Regions from separate parts of the Homo sapiens genome. Here region 1 is linked to region 2. Evidence: fine-mapped expression QTL. Tissue or cell type: whole blood. Region 2 holds a variant in brackets; the other region holds the start of a gene. All regions are shown on one strand. Distances are from middle to middle.

The links.
Region 1: it holds the start of CLINT1, and the variant in region 2 is fine-mapped to the expression of CLINT1 in whole blood (TOPMed, PIP above 0.99).

The regions. Positions count from the first base shown.
Region 1 is chr5:157,855,174-157,865,706 of GRCh38, forward strand. CLINT1 (clathrin interactor 1) reads right to left here and starts at 3,972. Exons shown (of 12, transcript NM_014666.4): 1 at 3,757-3,972. The coding sequence starts at 3,797. RefSeq lists enhancers at 3,602-4,183, 4,021-4,260.
Region 2 is chr5:157,886,338-157,896,870 of GRCh38, forward strand. No RefSeq gene overlaps it. Among named protein-coding and RNA genes, the nearest start is that of CLINT1, 32 kb to the left of the region's middle. The variant G/C (reference allele first, on the strand shown) is at 5,105.

The DNA of each region.
Region 1 (10,533 bases), 31 kb before region 2:
CACTGATGAAAGAGATTTACCACTAATATTACTCCTTGCAAGGAAAGAGAAGGATTCGCTGAGCTTGAACAAATAAGTAGCAGTTTTGATCTACCACTACCATGTCACCTTCATTACATTCCTCAAATCTAGAGAGAAAATAGAACTGCAGCAACTTTCAATTTTACCATGTATAGGATGACAAAATATAAACATGTCCAATTTTATTACAGCCACAAGTAAAGATAGGTCATAGGATGACAATGATTAAGCTAGTGCTCCTAGTTGGTGGGAATGGTGCCACTTATCCTTTCCTGCCACATCGCCTTTTATGCAACTTGACGAGTGGGAAGATACTGGCATTCCAAGCTCTGGCAGGCCTATGGCTTTATCTGCTTCCCTCAGTTCCACAATGTTCTGCAAAACAAATCCCTCTACTGCCACCAGGAGGTGCAGCGATTGTGGAAAATATACCCCCACTTCCAGAAAAAGTCTTCAAGGTCTCAAAAGCCAGTGTTTGAAATACATCATTATCACTTTGAGTAGCTGAGATGGGTGGATCACCTGAGGTCAGGAGTTCAAGACCAGCCTGGCCAACATGGCGAAACCCCGTGTCTACTAAAAATACACAGATTAGCTGGGTGTGGTGGCAGGCACCTGTAATTCCAGCTACTAGGGAGGCTGAGGCAGGAGACTCGCTTGAACCCCAGAAGTGTAAGCTGCAGTGAGCTGAGATCTCGCCACTGCACTTCAGCCCCGGGAACAAGAGCGAAACCCCATCTCAAAAAAAAAAAAGAAATACATCATTACACTTAAGAGCCGCTACCATACTGAATCTAAGAGTGGCTCCAGGAAACACATTTTTCAGAGTACATTTCTTTTTCTGAAGTAAAACCTCACTGGGTATCAATATACACTAAAAGTCCTAGTCTTCCTGAGTCATGGTCTTATTTATTGCATAAAATATTTAAGTATAACATTTATTGATTACCACTTTTTAAGAAAATTTCCCTTTTCAGCCTAAATTGTCTACAGAGGATAATGGCTCCAAAATTTGTCTGCTATTGTAAAAACTAGTTCCAACTATTTTTCCTTGATGGAAATGCATTTCTCCAATAGCCATCAAAGGTGGAAAAAGTCTTACTCTAGCCAGGTCCCCTCATTTTACAGATAAGGAAGGCAAAGTCTGGAGATTCATGTGATTCTGCCTCAAATCATACATACAGCTAATTAAAAACGTAATGCCAGAATATGAACCAGATAGTTAAACCCCTAACCTTTCTCTCATAGAAGCCCTCATTCTATTGATCCATCTATCTGAATAGCCCTTAATCACGTCACTGCTTCTTCATTTGCAAGTTCCTTCATCATTTTATACCTCTGATAATCAGACCAACCATTCTATGGATGCACGTCTATTATGGCATTATAAGGTGCACAGTCTAACAGATCCACGGTTCTGTAAGATGCTTACATTTGGGGGGAAGAATTTCTTCTCTTCTTGCCAGTGAAAAGATGAAAATTAAAATCCCGAGTACTCATCAGTAAATCAACCTCATGTTCTAATCTTAATATGTGTCAGACACCCACAAAAGCCTTAAAAAGTCTTTGGTGACAACATTCTTCTATGTTCTTGAATAATTTGGTTCAAGTCTACATCCTAAATTGGGTAGTAAAAAGATAGATAATATTTTTCAACAATAGCTTTTCCTTTAGATAACTACTTACATGGCAAATTTAACCTAAAGCACGTGAAGATTAGTAACAAGTGTGATAAGCAAATATGAAAGGTACAACAATAGTAGGAATATTGCCTCGATTTCTGTCTTACGAACAATGTACAGCCTCTTCAAATTTTTGAGTACCACAAATTTGGTCCTCTAAGAGAACAAGGTGTTTCTTAATGGTTTTATTCTTCTGACCTCTGACTGAGAAATAAGGAGGCAGTGCCAGGCACGGTGATGCATGCCTGTAGTCCTGGCCACTTGGGAGGCTGAGGTGGGAGGATCACTTGAGCCCAGGAGTTGGAGGGTGCAGTGAGTTATGAACACACAAAAGAATGAGACCCCATCAAAAAAAAAAAAAAAAAAGGTAGCTTTTAGTCTTCTTTTGGCCTTTAAAAAACTATTTAAGTTGATATCCTAATCTTTACACAATATACTAAAAAAATGCCAATGAACCTAGATCTGGAAAAGATCTAGTTTATTTCATCTTCGGTAAGCAAAAGCAAAGAATATATAAATAGCTAAATAGTCCGAAATAAATAGCTGAAGCCTTAATAGCCAAATGAGTTGTTATAAAGGAAAATTATTAAAGCAAATCACTTTTCAAACTTGAAGCTTCTTTCTTAAAGAGGTTTATTTCACTCTAAATGCAAAACATTTGCTAGTTTCAAAAGTACACTAATATAAACATATTCTGTTAAGGGCTTTATATGCAATACAATCCCTTAACCCTTAAGCCTCACAACAACATTCTAAGGTAGGTATCGTTGCATTTTCATTTTGTACCAGAGAAAACTAGGGCACTGTGAGGATAAGTAACTTCCCCAAGGTTATAAAGCTTGAACCCAGCTTTGCAGGTTCTGAAACCTGTGCTCCTTAGGCACTCTATTGCCTTCTTGGTAGCACAGAAAATATAAAAATATGGTCAAGCTCTAAGTTCTATCTGATGTATCAGACAAGGCACTGGAAATTACTTTGTTTCCTGGTGTCAAGAAAACAGTTTGCTATCTATACTTCCTGATTTTAGGTTAGGTGGGTGGCACAAATCAACTGTTTTTCTCACCACACTTATTGCATAATCATTAAAGCCCCAAAGGAAGAGGACTGCTTAAATTCTTAAACTTTATTTCCTGCTGGCCTAGAAGACCTTACTTAACCACTGTTATACCTGATATACTCATTTTAAAAGTTAAGGTTTTCCTTGTGCAAGTAAGAGACTAAAGTTATTTCAGTCTTAAAGGAAATCAACTACGTACTGGTCGTTTTACCTGCTTTTAAAAGCAGATCAACAGGATATAAACCTGGGTTGTTTTTTTCCTTAAGAGGACATTTCTTAATGACCTCTTAATTTAATCGAATGGAACAAGTAGCACACCAAAAATGATGTGTAGTGGAAAAAGAAACAGAAGAAAAAATCGCAAGAAGTCATATAGTGATCTACTTTCACTAGTGTTAGAAAAGCAAAGGATGAGTGTCTTCTTGAGTAACTTCAGGCTGACCACAATAGCCACTTGTTACACTACTACCACCCACTCCAACACTTCAGGTTCATTAGGAATTAAGAGGAGGCAAGGAAGATAAAAGACACACCCCAACCAGGTCTAAGGTCTCTCCGTACTACACCTTGAGGGACACAGGGAACCAGTGCATTGTGCCCCCCACCCCCAAACCTTCCCTGCTCCCCAGGAGGCAAAGCCCACGGCCTGGGGCCAAGACAGTCCTCCGGCCAGGGCAGTGACCCAGCGCCAAACAACCCGCCCCTTATGACCAAAGCGTCGGCACCCAGGGGTTGGAATAGGGGAAGGGACGGGAAGGCCTGGAAAGGAGAGAAGGGTGGCCAAGAGGATGTTTTTTTTTAAAACGAGGGAGGGTCCCTCCCCAGCCTCGCCAGCGGGGATGAGGCCCGGGGCCGGGAAGGAGCGGGCCGCCGCCATGATGGGGCTGGCAGAGCCAGGGGGCGTGACGTGGGCAACCCCTAGCCCAAGGCCAGCTCCTTCTCCCCCTCCCCCCTCCCCCACGTGGGCCTCGGCCACAACTGCCCCCCGATACTCACGCTTTGTCCACCAGCTCGCGCACCTTCCACATGTTCAACATCGTGCCCCGCGCGGGACGGTCCGCCGCCTCCCTCTCCTGCTCCCCACGGACCCCGGAACACTTCCGTACCGGGGCAGTTCCAGGCCGGGGTCACCGCCGCCCGCCGCCTCGAACTCCCCCAGTCAGCTCCTTCCTTTGCCACAGCAGCGGCGCCGCCGGTGACACGTCGAGACGCGGCAGCACAGGCGCTGCGTGGAGCGGAAGTGTCCGACTTTCCGCCGCTGCGCGCGGGGCACGCCGGGACTTGTAGTTTTCCCTGAGTGCCGAGCTCGGCCGGTTGAGTTGGGAGAGCTGAGAGGTTGAGTTGGGAGAGCTGAGAGGAGTTGGGATGGTTTCTCTTAAGCTTTCCCAGTCCCCGGCCCCAGACCTACCGAGCCAGAAATTTTGGAGGTGGGGCCCAGCGATCTGTGCTTTTACAAATCCTCTAGGTGATTCTGATCACGCTCAAGTTTCAGAACCACTGGTGCAGGGTCTAGTCACACTCAAACACTTTTCAAATGTAAGGCAGTATTACTATGTTATTAGTAATGATTATACAGAAGTATGATTGGCATACGCATTCCTCATCGACAGACACATCGCTGTATTTATTTCCCAATGCCCAAGTACACTTAGATCTCTAGGCCTTAGTTTCCACCCCTGTAAAATTGAAGAACTTGTATTCTAAATCCTTTTCCGCTCTAATTCTATGATACAATGTTTTATATTTAGACAACTACCTGAAATCCTTGTTAAATGCTTTACTATAAACCTCAGAAACTCAGTTCACACTCCACGGGAAACTAAAAAGCCAACATTATATATACACGCACACATACACATACATATGACAGGTTTGTGTTTTTTAAGGATAAATATGCACATTGCTTCCATTGCTTTGTTGCAATGGTTGTCATCACTTCCTTCTCTACTTACTCATTTTTATCAATGCTCATGTTAAAGCTACAAGCAACCTTAAGTTTCATTTGATCCATCTGCTGAAATTTTACAGTTCTTTTCATTCTACAAATATTTATTGAGCATCTTGTATGTTCCAGAAGTGGGGAATATAGTTAAAGACCCAGCTCTCTTGGAATTCAAACGTAATTGGAAGAAACATATAATAATCAAGGAAACATTTAAGATAATTGCATATAGTGTAATTGCTTAGCGGGTTCTTTCTGCCCACTTTACAGATAAAGTCAATTCACTGCGACCAAGTCATTGCAGTGAAGAGTTTGACATGAGGCTGGCCATGCCACTTGAGAGACAGAGTTATTACTCAAATCAATCTTCCTGAACATTTGGAAGCTAGAGTTTTTCAAAGATAGTTTGGTGAGCAGAGGGTTAGGGCATGGGTGCTGCTGATTGGTTAGGGATGCAATCAGAGGAGTATGGAAAATGGTTCTCCTTTGCTGAATCGGCTTCTTGATGGAGGGCCAGCAGAGGAGTGGCTGGTCTGGGTGGGGTCATCCGTTTGTCAGAAATGCAAAAGCCTGAAAAGACGTCTTAAAAGGCCAATCTTAGGTTCTACAATAGTTCATTACAGGCCAGGCACAGTGGCTCACGCCTGTTATCCCAGCATTTTGGGAGGCTGGGAGGCCAAGGCAGGAGGATCACTTGAGCCCAGGAGTTTGAGACCAGCCTGGGCAGCAAAGTGAGATCCCCCTGCCAGCCCAGTCTTTAAAAAAAAAAAAAAAAAAAAAAAAAAAGCCAGGCGTTGGGGCACACTCTTGTGAGGCCAGCTACTTAGGAGGTTGAAATGGAAGGATCCCTCGAAAGGATCAAATAAAGACTCCAATTCACAAAGAAGTGAAATTGATGGTTGCTAGTCATGAAGCTAGGTAACAATAATCCCAAATAAACAACCTCGGACCCTGGTCCCTCAAGTGAAACCACCTCTTTTCTATTTTCTTTTTCTTTTTCTTTTTTTTTTTTTTTGAGCTGGAGGTCTCACTCTGTTGCCCCAGCTGATCTGAAACTCCTGGGCTCAAGCAATCCTCCCACCTCAGTCTCTCAAGTAGCTGAGACTACAGGAAACCCTCTCCAAGTTGCATTCACTTAATTACCGAAAGCAGCTTTGAAAAAAGTTTCAGTAAGGCTTTCGGATTGAGGCCCCAAGAGAAAGAAGCAAGGTTGAAGGAATTGACAGGCAGAAAATTACAACAAGCAGAAATCCAAAGTTATCTCAGAGCTTTGTAATGGTAGGAGTACTTGGGCTGATATGAAGTGAGTTGGAGAGGTGGGTGGGGAGAGGCAGGTAAAGATGAGCAGAGATGGGTAGAGGAATAGGGCTTTCAAATAAGAAGTTTGTGTTTTTTTGTTGAAAAGACTATCCAGCTCAAGATCCCAGAGATGGAATGTGGCCAGAGGAGATAAGAAAGAGAAACTACTTTGCATAAATAAGAGCTCAGCAAGTTAACTTTCAAACAAGTGAGTCCAGAGTACACCTGCAGAACGGGCCTGGCCCAGAAACAACCACCTTCCCTCCCCTGGGCCTGTTTGGGTGTTCACAGCAGGGCACTGTCAGCCTCTTTGCTCATTCCAAAACCAAGTTTGCATACGTCTAGACCCATCCTAGAGTTGTCACCTGTGACATTTGCACAGTCAGCTGGAGCCATCTGGAATGTAAAGCCAAAAAATCTGCCTGTCCGCTTCTAATTCAAGAGAGCCTTTAAAGGACTCAGAAAAATCAGACCCGGAGACTTTGTTAAAAAGTGATCTCCAGAGACTATTTGCATTTCAACAAAGTGTTCCATTTTTACCTTTTATCTTGCAAGTTCGAGAGCAGTTTCCATAGTAACTTCTTTGTGGCAATTCAAATATGTTCATGGTAGAAAAATAAATGAGAAAATGCTCCACCCACTCTTCTTCAGGAAAACATATATTTTTTACTAAATGAGCTGACACTTTTAGTAAGGCCAAACCAACACACGTTTTGAAGGAAAAAAAAAAAAAAAAGGCCGGATGTGGTGGCTCACGCCTGTAATCCCAGCACTTTGAGAGGCCAAGGTGGGTGGATCACCGGAGGTCGGGAGTTCGAGACCAGCCTGACCAATATGAAGAAACCCTGTCTCTACTAAAAATACAAAATTAGCTGGGCGTGGTGGCGCATGCCTGTAATCCCAGTTACTCGGGGGGCTGAGGCAGGAGAATCGCTTGAACCCGGGAGGTGGAGGTTGCAGTGAGCTGAGATCGCATACGAAACTCATCTCAAAAAAAATATATATATACATATATACTCAGTTATGTTAATGATGTGTGTTGTGAGAAGCAGTGTAGACAATGGACACTGACTGCTTATTTCATGCGGTCACCTCCCTAGAGTTCCCTTGGGGGAGTTTAATTCATGGTACATGGGTATGGCAGCCATGGAAAAGCACCATTCAGACCTACTTTCAAGAGAACCAGTTGCAAGGAGTGTGGTTGACTGACAGCTTCCTGCTGTCTTCCTCTGGGATCATTTATGCCAACGGCATACTCTCTGTAGGGCTATTCCCAGCAATGACTGAGAAAGGTGTGCTGGAGCCAGGCCATTTCTGCCCAGTGCTGGACTCCTTCACCGGGCAATCATTGACCTGGGCTTCCCATCGACTTGGCCCAGATTTCCTCAAAGCCTTGCTGCAATCAGATACTCTTCCTACCCAATCTTCCTTCCTTCCTTCTCTTCCTTGACAGGTGTCAGAACTTCCTTGTGGTCTCAGACCCTTACCACCTGCTCTTGCTCTCGCTTCCCTTTTTCCTTCATAGGCATTTCCCCTAATATATCTTATACTTCTAATTCCATCTTGGCTTCTGTTTCCTGTAGTACTCAAACTGACACAGCAGGTGAACATTTGCACCTTGGTTTCAGTATTTGGACTCACGAGTCTTGTTTTTGATCACACCTGACTGTTCATCTCCAGAGGTCAGAATATTGGTTTCTTTCTTTCTTTTTTTTTTTTTTTGAGATGGAGTCTCGCTCTGTCACCCAGGCTGGAGTGAAGTGGTGCAATCTTGGCTCACTGCAACCTCCGCCTCCTGGGTTCAAGCAATTCTCCTGTCTCAGCCTCCCGAGTAGCTGGGATTACAGGCATCTGCCACCAAGCCCAGCTAGTTTTTTGTATCTTTAGTAAAGACAGGGTTTCACCATGTTGGTCAGGCTGGTCTTGAACTCCTGACCTCAGGTGATCCACCCGCCTCGGCCTCCCAAAGTGCTGGGATTACAGGTGTGAGCCACTGCTCCTGGCCAGTTTTTTTTTTGTATTTTTAGTGGAGACAGGGTTTCACCATGTTGGCCAGGCTGGTCTTGAACTCCTGACCTCAGGTGGTCCACCTGCCTCGGCCTCCCAAAGTGCTGGGATTACAGGCGTGAGCCACTGCACCCAGCTGTAACCACATTTTCTATTAGGCATCCAAGGGAGAAGAGGAACTTTGGTCTTTCATCCACTGACTCTGACATCTCAAAAGATAACTCTGATTGGCCCAGTTTGGACCATATGCCTATCTTGGGTCCTATCACCTCTAGAGAGGCCTGCCTTACAGAATTTGTAGCCCTAGTAGAACCACATGGAGTGGGGAAAGAAGAAAGACTTCTCTGAAGGAACTCTGAAGAGAATCATGCCCTGGCAGACAAAAGCAAGAGTTGTTTACAACTGTTAAATGTAAGGTGGGGTCTGGGAATTGTACTTTGAAAAAACATTCTAAGTGATTTTGCTGGGGTTTGTGATGCCCTGGGCTAGATGACACAGGTCCTTCTCAGCTCTTGGAATTCCACAAAAGTAGCTGGGTTGGGAAGAACAAAATAGAGAAGACTATCATAGGGGAGGCCTGGCACGGTGCCTCATGCCTGTAATCCCAGCACTTTGGGAGGCTGAGGCGGGCAGATCGCCTGAGGTCAGGAGTTCGAGACCAGCCTGAGCAACATGGTGAAACCCTGTCTCTACTAAAAATATAAAAATTAGCAGGGCATGGTGGCACATGCCTGTAGTCCCAGCTACTCGGGAGACCGCGGCAAGAGAATCACTTGAACCCAGGAGGCAGACGTTGCAGTGAGGCAAGATCGTGCCATTGCACTCCAGCCTAAGCAACAGAGTAAGACTCTGTCTCAAAAAAAAAAAAAAAAAGAAAGAAAGAGAGAAAGAACAAAAGAAAAAACTATAATAGGGAACAGCATAAAAGAAAAGGAAGCAATGCAGAAGGAAGGAGTTAAGTGGTCTGAGGCTGCTGTGATGCTGAGGCTGCGGTGGCGCTGCTGGCATTCTGCAGCAGGTAGACTGATGGCGGGGCATGCCTTCCTTCCTGTTCTGCCGACAGTTGGGCTCTTCTTGGCTGACATTCAGTCCCCTTTCAGGGCTGTCAGTGGGGCTCTCAGGTGGGCCTATTCAGAAAGCTTGATAGGTGCTCTAAAGGGCTAACATATTTGCATTCCTTCTGTGAGAATGGGCATGCTCCAGCAGGAGGAGAGATAGAGGCAAAAATGCTCTTAGAATCATTTCCCTGCCTCCTGGGATGCTCTGTCTTCTCTCTCCTGAAACAGGCGAGCCTGGAGTGGATGTACTGTTCCTAGAGTCTAGACCTCTGAAAATGCCACTCACAGGAAAGTGTCATCAGTGAAGCAACGAGGCCACTTGTGACTGTGGGAATTTATCCTGCATGGTCAAGTCAGAGTCAGGGGTGAGTGGGGTGGATGTCAGAAAGGATGGGCTGGCTGGTTTTTGAGGCAGGGTCCTTCTGGACAAGGTCAGAAAGCTCCTATGCGTCCAGAGTTCACACTGAAGCTCCAACAGAACCTGAACTCTATCAGTTCATCAAAAGAATTGTGCTCTAGGCCCGGGCGTGGTGGCTCACACATGTAATCCCAGCACTTTGGGAGGCCGAGGCAGGCGGATCACGAGGTCAGGAGATCGAGACCATCCTGGCTAACACGGTGAAACCCTGTCTCTACTAAAAAATACAAAAGAAATTAGCCGGGCGTGCTGGCGGGCGCGTGTAATCCCGGCTACTCCATAAGGCCGAGGCAGGAGAATGGCATGAACCCAGGAGGCGGAGCTTGCAGTGAGCTGAGATCGCGCCACTGCACTCCAGCCTGGGCAACTGGGCAACAGAGCAAGACTGTCTCAAAAAAAAAAAAAAAAAAAAAAAATAGAATTGTGCTCTAGACCAGGTGTGGGGATCATACCTGTAAACCCAGCACTTTGAGAGATTGAGGTGGGTGGATCACTTGAACCCAAGAGTTCAAGACTAACCTGGGCAACATGGCTAAAAAAAAAAAATTAGCCGGGCCTGGGGACTTATGCCTGTAGTCCCAGCTAAATGGAGGGCTGAGCAGGAGGACTGCTTGAGTCTGGGAAGGTAGAGGCTGCAGTGAGCTGTGATTGCGCCACTGCACTCCAGCCTGGGTGGCAAAGTAAGACCCTGTCTCAAAAACAAAAAAAACAATTTCTTTGAAAAAACAATATTTAAGGCCGGGCACGGTGGCTCACACCTGTAATCCCAGCACTTTGGAAGGCCAAGGCAGGTGGATCACGAGGTCAGGAGATTGAGACCATCCTGGCTAACACAGTGAAACCCCGTCTCTACTAAAAATATAAAAAATTATCCGGGCATGGTGGCGGGCGCCTGTAGTCCCAGCTACCTCAGGAGGCTGAGGTAGGAGAATGGCGAGAACCTGGGAGGCGGAGGTTGCAGTGAGCTGAGATCATGCCACTGCACTCCAGCCTGGGCGACAGAGCGAGACTGCGTCTCAAAAAAAAAAGAAAAAAGAAAAAACAATATT
Region 2 (10,533 bases):
CTGGAGTTGGGCAACATGGCTTCTCCCCTTTCTAGGTCCCATGGCAGCCATCTTGCTGTTACTCGCCTTTGGACCCTGTATTTTTAACATCCTTGTTAAATTTGTTTCCTCTAGAATTGAGGCCATCAAGCTACAGATGGTCTTACCAATGGAACTCAAATGAGTTCAACTAATGACTTCTACCGAGGACCCCTGGACTGTTCCGCTGGCCCTTCCACTGGCCTAAAGAGTTCCCCTCTGGAGGACACTACAACTGCAGGGCCCCTTCTTTGCCCCTATCCAGCAGGAAGTAGCTAGAGCGGTCATTGGCCAAATTCCCAACAGCAGTTGGGTTGTCCTGTTTACAGGGGGGGATTGAGAGGTGACAACGTGTTAGCAGCCCTCACTCACTCTCAGCACCTCCTCGGCCTTGGCAGCCATGCTCGAGGAGCCCTTCAGCCCACCACTGCACTGTGGGAGCCCCTCTCTGGGCTGGCCGAGGCTGGAGCCGGCCCCCTCTGCTTGCGGGAAGGTGTGGAGGGAGAGGCGCGGGCGGGAACTGGGGCTGCGCGTGGTGCTTGCGGGCCAGTGAAAGTTCCAGGTGGGTGTGGGCTTGGCAGGCCCCGTACTCAGAGCGGTCAGCCAGCCCTGGGCAGTGAGGGGCTTAGCACCCAGGCCAGCAGCTGCGGAGGGGGCACCGGGTTCCCCCAGCACTGCCGGCCCACCTGTGCCACACTCGAATTCTTGCTGGGCCTCAGCCGCCTCCCCGTGGGGCAGGGCTTGGGACCTGCAGCCCGCCATGCCCGAGCCCCACTGTGGTGGGCTCCTGTGCGGCCCGAGCCTCCCTGATGGGCACTGCCCCCTGCTCCATGGCGCCTGGTACCATCGACAACCCAAGGGCTGAGGAATGCAGGTGCATGGCACGGGACTGGCAGGCAGCTCCACCCGTGGCCCCAGCGCGGGATCCACTAGGTGAAGCCAGCTGGGCTCCTGAGTTGGGTGGGGTCTTGGAGAACATTTATGTCTAGCTGGAGAATTGTAAATGCACCAGTCAGCACTCTGTGTCTAGCTCAAGGTTTGTAAATGCACCAATCAGTGCTCTATGTCTAGCTAATCTACTGGGGACTTGGAGAACTTTTATGTCTAGCTAGAGGATTGTAAATGCACCAATCAGCACTCTGTGTCTAGCTCAGGGATTGTAAATGCACCAATCAGCACCCTGTCAAAATGGACCAATCAGCTCTCTGTAAAACTGACCTATCAGCTCTCTGTAAAACAGACCAATCAGCTCTCTGTAAAATGGACCAATCAGCAGGATGTGGGTGGGGCCAGATAAGGGAATAAAAGCAGGCTGCCTAAGCCAGCAGTGGCAACCTGCCAGGGTCCCCTTCCACACTGTGGAAGCTTTGTTCTTTCACTCTTTGCAATAAATCTTGCTGCTGCTCAGTTTTTGGGTTTGTGCTGCCTTTGTGAGCTGTAACACTCACCACGAAGGTCTACAGCTTCACTCCTGAAGCCAGCGAGACCATGAACCCACTGGGAGGAATGAACAACTCTGGACGGGAGGAACGAACAACTCTAGACGTGCTGCCTTAAGAGCTGTAACACTCACCGTGAGAGCCCGCAGCTTCATTCTCGAAGTCAGTGAAACCAAGAACCCACCAATTCTGGACACACTAGGATTATAGGCGTGAACCTCTGCACCCAGCCCTACTTTTCTTTTAAGAGTTTTGTAGTTTTAGTTCTTACATTCAGTTCTTTGATCCATTTTGAACTAATATTTGTATATGCTATGAAGTAGGGACCCAACTCCATTCTTTTGCATGTAGGTAACCAGTTGTTCCTGCACCATTTGTTGAATAGACTATTCTTTTTCCAATGAATTATTTTGGTACTTGGTTAAAAATTAATTGATGATAACTCTCAGGAGTTATTCCTAATGTTAATAATGATCAGAATTTTTACTGGCTCCTGGTTTATATCAAGAACCTTTGCTCCTTTCCCTTTGAGCACGTCTGTTTCAGAGATCATTCCAGGATCTCAAATTTGTGATCTTGATTAACACAACAATGAACACCCTAAGGGGCCAGAAGGGCACTCCAAGTGTGATTAGATAAGGGTGTGTGGGTAAATAACTTTGTAAACTTTCCTAATTTATAACATGGGGATAATAAGAATACTTGGCTGGGCACAGTGGCTCACACCTGTAATCCCAGCACTTTGGGAGGCCGAGGTGGGAGGATCACCTGAGGTCAGGAGTTCAAGACCAGCCTGACCAATCTGATAAAACCCATCTCTACTAAAAATACTAAAATTAGCCGGGCATGGTGGCATGCACCTGTAATCTCAGCTACTTGGGAGGCTGAGACAGGAGAATCGCTTGAACCCGGGAGGCAGAGGTTGCAGTGAGCCGAGATCGTGCCATTGCACTCCAGCCTGGGCAACAAGCGTGAGACTCCCTCTCAAAAAAAAAAAAACAAAAAAAAACCGAAAACTTGCCCATAGGGTGGTTGTGGGGATTAAAGGAATTTAAAAAGTTGTCAATGGAACTATGCATTAGAGGGAATAATTGTAAAATGCTTTATAGATATAAAGAAGGCAAACATCAATGCTTTGGCAAGAGTTGGACTAGGATGTCAAAAGCAAGCTTTGCTGTGTGATTAATTAGCTGGGTAACCTTGTGTAATCACTGAAACTCTCCCAGTCTCAATTTCCTGGTCTATTTAATGTAGGTAATGATGTGAAGTCTAATGACCTTTCTGGGTTATTGTGAGATTGAAGCAATGTAGTAGGTGTAAAAGTGGTTTGGAACACTTAACTTGTTATTCTGGGCATTGTAAAGGATTCATAGAGAATTGCTTGCTTTCATTCTAAAAATTGCCTTTGAATTGTTTATAATGCCGGATTGATTCCTTCCATTGGGGCTAGCCCCAGGTAATGTTTACCACAATAAAACATTAACATGAGATTTTTCACCTCTTACCTGGGTAAGGACCAGAGCCTGATACTTGGCTCAAAGAAAGTATTTATACAGGGTTTAATAACAACCAGGCCCTCAGGGAATTCTCTATAAATAGTTTTGGTGCTGGGATAGAATGTGACCAGGAAGAATATTAACCATAGTCTTTCTTTTATTGGTCAGTTACAGTGTAGAGGAAGTATGTTAAAAAAACCCAAAATCTCAGATGACCTTATTCACATTGTGGTGGAGCTGGAAGACCACCTCTCCTCCTGTCCCAGGCAGTCATGGGGAGGAAGATGGTCTGCCCAAGGGAATCCTAATTTGAGGGGAAGAGGACAGTGAATCAAATAAACTAACCATAGTAGTCCATAGCACCTACTCCATTGTTGAAGAAGATACGTTGGCAAATTATGAAGTATTTAAAGACCTTTCTTGACATCCTTGTGGGTTGGTTAAGACGAAACTGCCTCTGACAATTAATGTTAATATTTGGGAGATGCAAATATGACTCAACAAGTATTGACAGGCCATGATAGAATAAAGATCTTTAACTGTCACCTACCATGTTAGAGAGACACCAAAGAGGACCAGACACCTGGAGTACCAACAATTCCCCCTGCCAATTTTCTCAGTGTTATTCTAGACTAACTCACACTTGGATATTTTTCCCCTGTGGGGAACACATTTCACCTGGTGGAGGAAGAGGGCTGGCATGGGGCAAGAAAATCCCTTGTGAAGAAGGGTGGAATTTTGCAGAGAGGAAGGCAGTGCTCTCATATAAGAATATGAGGATTGCTGGGTGCAGTGGATCATGCCTGCAATCTCAGCACTTCTGGAGGCCAAGGCGGGTGAATCACTTGAGGTCGGGAGTTCGAGACTAGCCTGACCAACATGAAGAAACCCTGTCTCTACTAAAAATATAAAATTAGCTGGGCGTGGGTGGTGCATGCCTCTAATCCCAGCTACTCAGGAGGCTGAGGCAGGAGAATCACTTGAACCTGGGAGGCGGAGGTTGCAGTGAGCCGCGATCACGCCATTGCACTTCAGCCTAGGCAACAAGAGTGAAACTCCGTCTCAAAAAAAAAAAATAAATAAAATAAAATAAAATAAAATAAATAAATAAATAAATAAATAAATAAAAGAATATGACGATCAAGAAATAAGGTTAAGATCTTAGGGCTCCCAAAAGGAAACTCCCCTTATGAAAGGTTTAAACTTTCAGGTGCTTTCCCTGTAAAGTTATACTTTCTATATAGTTTTAAAGTATTTCCCCATAGTCTGCAATTCCCCTTAGCTTCCTCCAACAACCTCTCAGTAAAATGTGATACACAGCTACTTACTAGCTGTGCCTCAGTTTCCAGTTTCCTTATCTGTAAATTGGAGATAATACCTTCTTCATAGTGTTAACAGTGGAGGGTCTTGACTACAAGTTGTCATCCAGGTTCTTGGCGTTTTGAACAAAGAATTGAACAAAATGCACAAACAAAACAATGAAAGAATGAAGCAATGGAAACACAGATTTATTGAAATGAAAGTACACTCCACTGAGTGGGAATAAGCAAGCAGCTCAAGAGCACTGGTTACAGAATTTTCTGGGGTTTAAATACCCTCTAGAGGTTTCCCACTGGTTACTTGGTTTACACCAATGTAAATGAAGTACTGGCCTGTGAGCAGTCTGATTGTTTGTGGAAGGTGACCAATCAGAAGCTGAATTGAAGTTACAAAGTTACACCCCTACGCAAATGAAGACTAGGCCTGCAACCAGTCTGATAGTCTGATTGGTTGCAGGAGGGGACCAGTCAGAGGTACTTTCAATTTTTCATCTGCAAGGCAGTGCAAAAGGAGTAGCCTTTGATCCTTTTGTTACTTGAGACTAGAAAGGTGGAGTTTTCCTTTTGATTCAGTTCTAGGAAGTCAGCTCAAATGGGCCTTAGGTTCCCTGCCTCCAGACCCTATTCTCCTGCCTAAACAGGGTTGTCTTGAGGATTTAATGAATTACTGCATGTTAAATGTGCTAATAAATGTGAGTTAAGTTAGAACACTCACCAGTGCCTGGCACAGAAAAGTGCTCAGTGTGTGCTAACTGTTGTTGCAGCTGTTAACCACAACACCTTCCCCTCTTCTTCCTCTTCAGGAAGGTCTTTCAGATATTGAGCTATCTTC[G/C]GGTATCTTCCTCAAGGCCTTTCAGATATTGAGAGAAGCCAGGGCCACTTCCATTTTTTGAGGCTACTTATAAGAAAAAATAAGGAAATTACAAAATAAGACTTCAAAATATTGTGGTATGCTTTAAAAACATTTACATAGGCCAGGCTCAGTGGCTCACGCCTGTTATCGCAGCACTTTGGAAGGCCGAGGTGGGCGGATCACAAGGTCAAGAGATTGAGACCACCCTGGCCAACATGGTGAAACCCCGTCTCTACTAAAAATACAAAAATTATCTGGGCATGGTGGCGCGTGCCTGTAGTCCCAGCTACTCAGGAGGCTGAGGCAGGAGAATTGCTTGAATCCGGGAGGCAGAGGTTGTAGTGAGCCGAGATCACGCCACTGCACTCCAGCCTGGTGACAGAGCAAGACTCTGTCTCAAAAAAAAAAAAAAAAAAATTACATATAGCAAATTAATACTTTGCAACACAAAAAGATACAAGGAATAAATAAAACTGTGCTATTTGCAGGGTATTTACACAGTGTACAAATTGCTTACTCTGAACACTGTAGCTCAGGGATTAGATACAACCTTAAAGCTAAACATCAACATCTTCCAGTTCTGTCAGCCTTTCTATCTTTGTATATAACCTCTTTTGGAAATAACTTTATTTTTTATTCATTTATTTATTTTTAATTTATTATTATTATTATTATTTTTGAGATAGAGTCTCACTCTGTCACCCAGGCTGGAGTACAGTGGCGCAATCTTGGCTCACTGCAACCTCCACCTCCTGAGTTCAAGCAATTCTCCTGCCTCAGCCTCCGGAGTAGCTGGGGTTACAGGTGTGCGCCACCATGCCCAGCTAATTTTCATATTTTTAGTAGAGACGGGGTTTCATCATATTAGCCAGGCTGGTCTTGAACTCCTGACCTCAAGTGATTTGCCTTCTCGGCCTCCCAAAGTGTTGGGATTACAGGCGTGAGCCACTGCACCCAATTTGGAAATAACTTTAAAGGGAACTTTTTAGTCTTTTCATGAATGAGATGCCAGATCTTTTTTTTTTTTTTTTTTTTTTTTTCTGAGACAGGGTCTCACTCTGTTGCCCAGGCTGGATTTCAGGGGTGCAGTCACAGCTCACCACAGCCTAGAACTCCTGGGCTTAAGGGATCCTCCCACCTCAGCCTCCTGAGTGGCTGGGACTACATGTGCATGCCACCCACCTCGACCTCCCAAAGTGCTGGGATTATAGGAGTGAGCCACTGCTTCTGGCCGAACTCTTTTGTACCCCTCCACACAGATTGATAAAGGGAAATCAGAGGCCCTGCTCCTCAGACCCGTCCACACCACCTTTGCAGAGGGAGGAGTGGCCAGAGAATAAGCAGCTTGAAGGGGCAGTGTCAAGATGATTCTGGAAGGGGCAAACTCTTTTCCTAATATTCATGAGGAAGATAAAAATCTGGAGGGTTAGAAATGCTGACATTCTAGTAGTTTGAGTAATGCCTGGTTGTAGAATATTGCAGGAGAGCTGAGCTTGAGTTTCCTGGGCTGAACCTTTCATTTTTATCTGTTTTGATGGAAATCTTTCTAAAATGGAGCTACTTCCCTGTATTATTAAAAAGAGCATAGTGAAAATGAAAAACAAAACCAAAGCATACTCTCCAAATGAAAATGATTGATATTCTATTTGAGATACCATGTGCATGTGAATCATGTCTGAGTAGTTTCATTTTATGTAGAGAAGCATCTAGAAACTCACAGCGGAAGATAAGGATGCACACATATTTTCCCGCTCTGTGCTTCCTTCACATTTTCACGTCAGTGTCATAACTCAAAATTTGTCATCGTGAGGATAGAGAAGCTTTGGTATTCATTGCTATAAAAACAAACTTGCAGAATAAATGTGACTATAAGCACTTCTGTTGGATGAGGGCCATTCTTAAATGGGGTTTTTTGTTTGTTTTTTGTTTTTGTTTTTTGTCTTTCAAAAATAAAGAGCACCGGCCGAGGCTCACACCTGTAATCCCAGGACTTTGGGAGGTTGAGGAGGGCAGATAGCTTGAACTCAGGAGTTCAAGACGAGCCTGGGCAACGTGGCGAAACCCGGTCTCTACAAAATATACCCCAAAAGATTAGCCAGTTGCAGTGGTGCATGCCTGTTATCCCAGCTATTCGGGAGGCTGAGGCACGAGAATCACTTGAATCTGGGAGGTGGAGTTTGCAGTGAGCCGAAAGGCTCACACCTGTGGACCCAGCTACTAGTTGGGAGGCTGAGGTGGGAGGATCGCTTGAGCCTGGCAGGCAGAGGTTGCAGTGAGTGGAGATCAGACTACTCCACTCCAACCTGGGTGATAGAATGAGACCCCTGCCTCAAATAAATAAATAAATAAATGAATAAATAAATAAATAAATAAATCAAGCACTAATAGAAGACAAGGCAAAGTAAGCTCCTAAAACAAACAAAGAAAACTAAAGGGTTTTTTCCAGATTGAGGCTCCCTCTTGACTCAAGGATCTGCCGCTATTTCATTCTTTTTTGGGCTCTAGATGCAGAAAGGGGTAAGGGAAAGGACATACACGTTATAGACCAAAATCCTGGGTGCTGGTCTATCTCAGGTCCTCACCAGCTTGTGGTTTTAGGCATCTGAGTCTTAGATTCCCTATATGTAAAATGTGGATGACCCATTTTTCCCCTGCTCCAGGAATGTTATAAAAATGAAATGCAATAGAGATTTTTAACTATAAATATAGACGGATAATGTTGCCTAGGGCCCGCCCTGGAACCTCGCTGGTTCTCTACAAAGGGTAACTTCTATTACTTGTTAGCCATGCTTTATTTCTAATTTTGCTCCTTTAGTACATTAGTCTTCCCTATTTTCATCTCAGTGGTTTTGCCTTTGCCCAAAGGGATGCATGACATAATCACCCATCTATCTGTCTGTTCATTTATTCATTAATTCATTTATAAACATTTTATTATGGAAAACTTTACATAAACATAAAAGTAGAGAGAATGGTATAACAGACCCCGAGGTACCCATCACCCTGACACAACCACTAACTCATTGCTGCTTTTATTTCACCTATACTCCCTCTGTCTCCTTCCCTACTGGATTAGTTTGAAATATATTCCTGACATCGAATCATCCACGTAAATGTATCAATATATATCTCTAAAAGATGACGACTGGTTTAAAAAACATAACTGCAATGCCATTATCAATCTAAAAATATCAATAATTCCTTAGTATTGTAAAACAATCCAGAATCAGTTAATGCTCAGATTTCCCAATTGCCTCATAGTGTATCTTTTTAAAAAGTATTTGTTTTGCCGGGCGCGGTTGCTCACGCCTGTAATCCTAGCACTTTGGGAGGCCGAGGCAGGCGGATCACCTGAGGTCGGGAGTTTGAGACCAGCCTGACCAATATGCAGAAACCCCATCTCTACTAAAAATACAAAAAAAGAATTATCCAGGCGTGGTGGCGCATGCCTGTAATCCCAGCTACTTGGGAGGCTGAGGCAGGAGAATCGCTTGAACCCGGGAGGCGGAGGTTGCAGTGAGCCGAGATCGCACCATTGCACTCCAGCCTGGGCAACAAGAGCAAAACTCTGTCTCAAAAAAAAGAAAAGAAAAGAAAAGAAAAAACACTTAGCTGGGCGTAGTGGCACATGCCTGTAATCCCAGCTATTTGGGAGGCTGAGGCAGGAGAATCGCTTGAACCTGGGAGGAGGAGGTTGTGGTGAGCTGAGATCACGCCATTGTACTCCAGCCTGGGCAACAAGTGTGAAACTCTGTCAAAAAAAAAAAAAGGTATTTGTTTTAATTGGGATTCATACAAGGCCCACATCTAGCATTTGGTTTATATAGTTCTTAAGTCTCTGGCAATCTACAGGCACCCTCCGATCTCTCTTTTCTTTTCTTTTCTTTTTTCTTTCTTTTTTTGTGGTTGTTGTTAGTTTCACCTCATCACCTAGGCTGGAGTGCAGTGGTGCCATCTTGGCTCACTGCAACCTCCACCTCCAGGGTTCAAGCGATTCTTTTGTCTCAGCCTCCAGAGTAGCTGGGATTACAGGCATGCATGACCAAGTCCAGCTAATTTTTGTATTTTTAGTAGAGACAGGGTTTCATGTTGGCCAGGCTGGTGTCGAATTCCTGGCCTCAAGTGATCCACCCGCCTCGGCCTCCCAAAGTGCTGGGATTACAGGTGTGAGCCACCATACCTGGCCCTTTTTTTTTTGTCCTTGCAATTTGCTTTTTATGGAAAAAGGTCAATTGTCAGCAAGAGTTTTCCAAATTCTGAATTTTGCTGATTGCATTCCCTTTGTGGTGTTTAACATGTTTTTCTCCCCTCTATATTCTCTGTAAACTGGTATTTAGTTCTGAATACTTGATTTGATTCACACTCTTGGTTTTGTTTATTTGTTTGTTTGTTTTGACGGAGTCTCATTCTGTTACCCAGGCTAGAGTGCTGTGGCACAATCTTGGCTCACTGCAACCTCCACCTCCCTAGTTCAAGTGATTCTCCCACCTCAGTCTCCCGAGCAGCTGGAATACCAGCGCCCGCCATTATGCCTGGCTAATTTTTGTATTTTTAGTAGAGACAGGGTTTCACCATGTTGGCCAGGCTGGTCTCGAACTCCTGACCTCATGATCCGCACACCTCAGCCTCCCAAAGTGCTGGGATTACAGGCATGATCCACCGCACCTGGCCTCACATTCTAGTTTTTGACAAGACTATTTTGTGGGTGGTGTTATGGGCTGAATTGTACCCCTGCAAAATTCATATGTTGAGGTTCTATCCCCAGTACCTTGGACTGTGACTGTATTTGAAGATGAGGTTTTTTAAGAGGTAATTTGATTAAAATGTAGTCATTAGGATAGGCCCTACTCCCATATGACTGGTGTCCTTTTCAGAAGAGGAAATCTGGCCACAGACAGTTACAAAGGGAAGGCCACATGAAGACACAGGGAGAAGATGACCGTCTGTAAGCCAAGGGCAGAGGCCTCAGAAGAAATCCACCCTGGCGATGCCTTGATCTTGGACTTTTAGCCTCCAGAACTGGAGAAAATGAATTTCTGTTGTTTAAGCCACCTAGTCTGTGGCACTGTGTTACAGCAGCCCTAGAAACTAGTACAGGTGGTGATGGGAATGTCCATTAGGAGGCACACAGTGTGGGATGTCTCTTTCTATGGTAATATTGGCTGCCATTGATCATTGTGTCCTAGATCCATTATCTCATTTGGAGTTTGCAAAAGTAGTCAGGTTCTAATGCTATTATTATTATTATTTACATTTTTTGAGACAGGGTCTCACTCTGTCACCCAGGCTGGAGTGCAGTGGCGTGATCTCAGCTTACTGCAACCTCCGCCTTCTGGGCTTAAGTGATTCTCCCACCTCAGCCTCTAGGGTAGCTGGAACTACAGGCACATGCCACGGTGCCTGGCTAA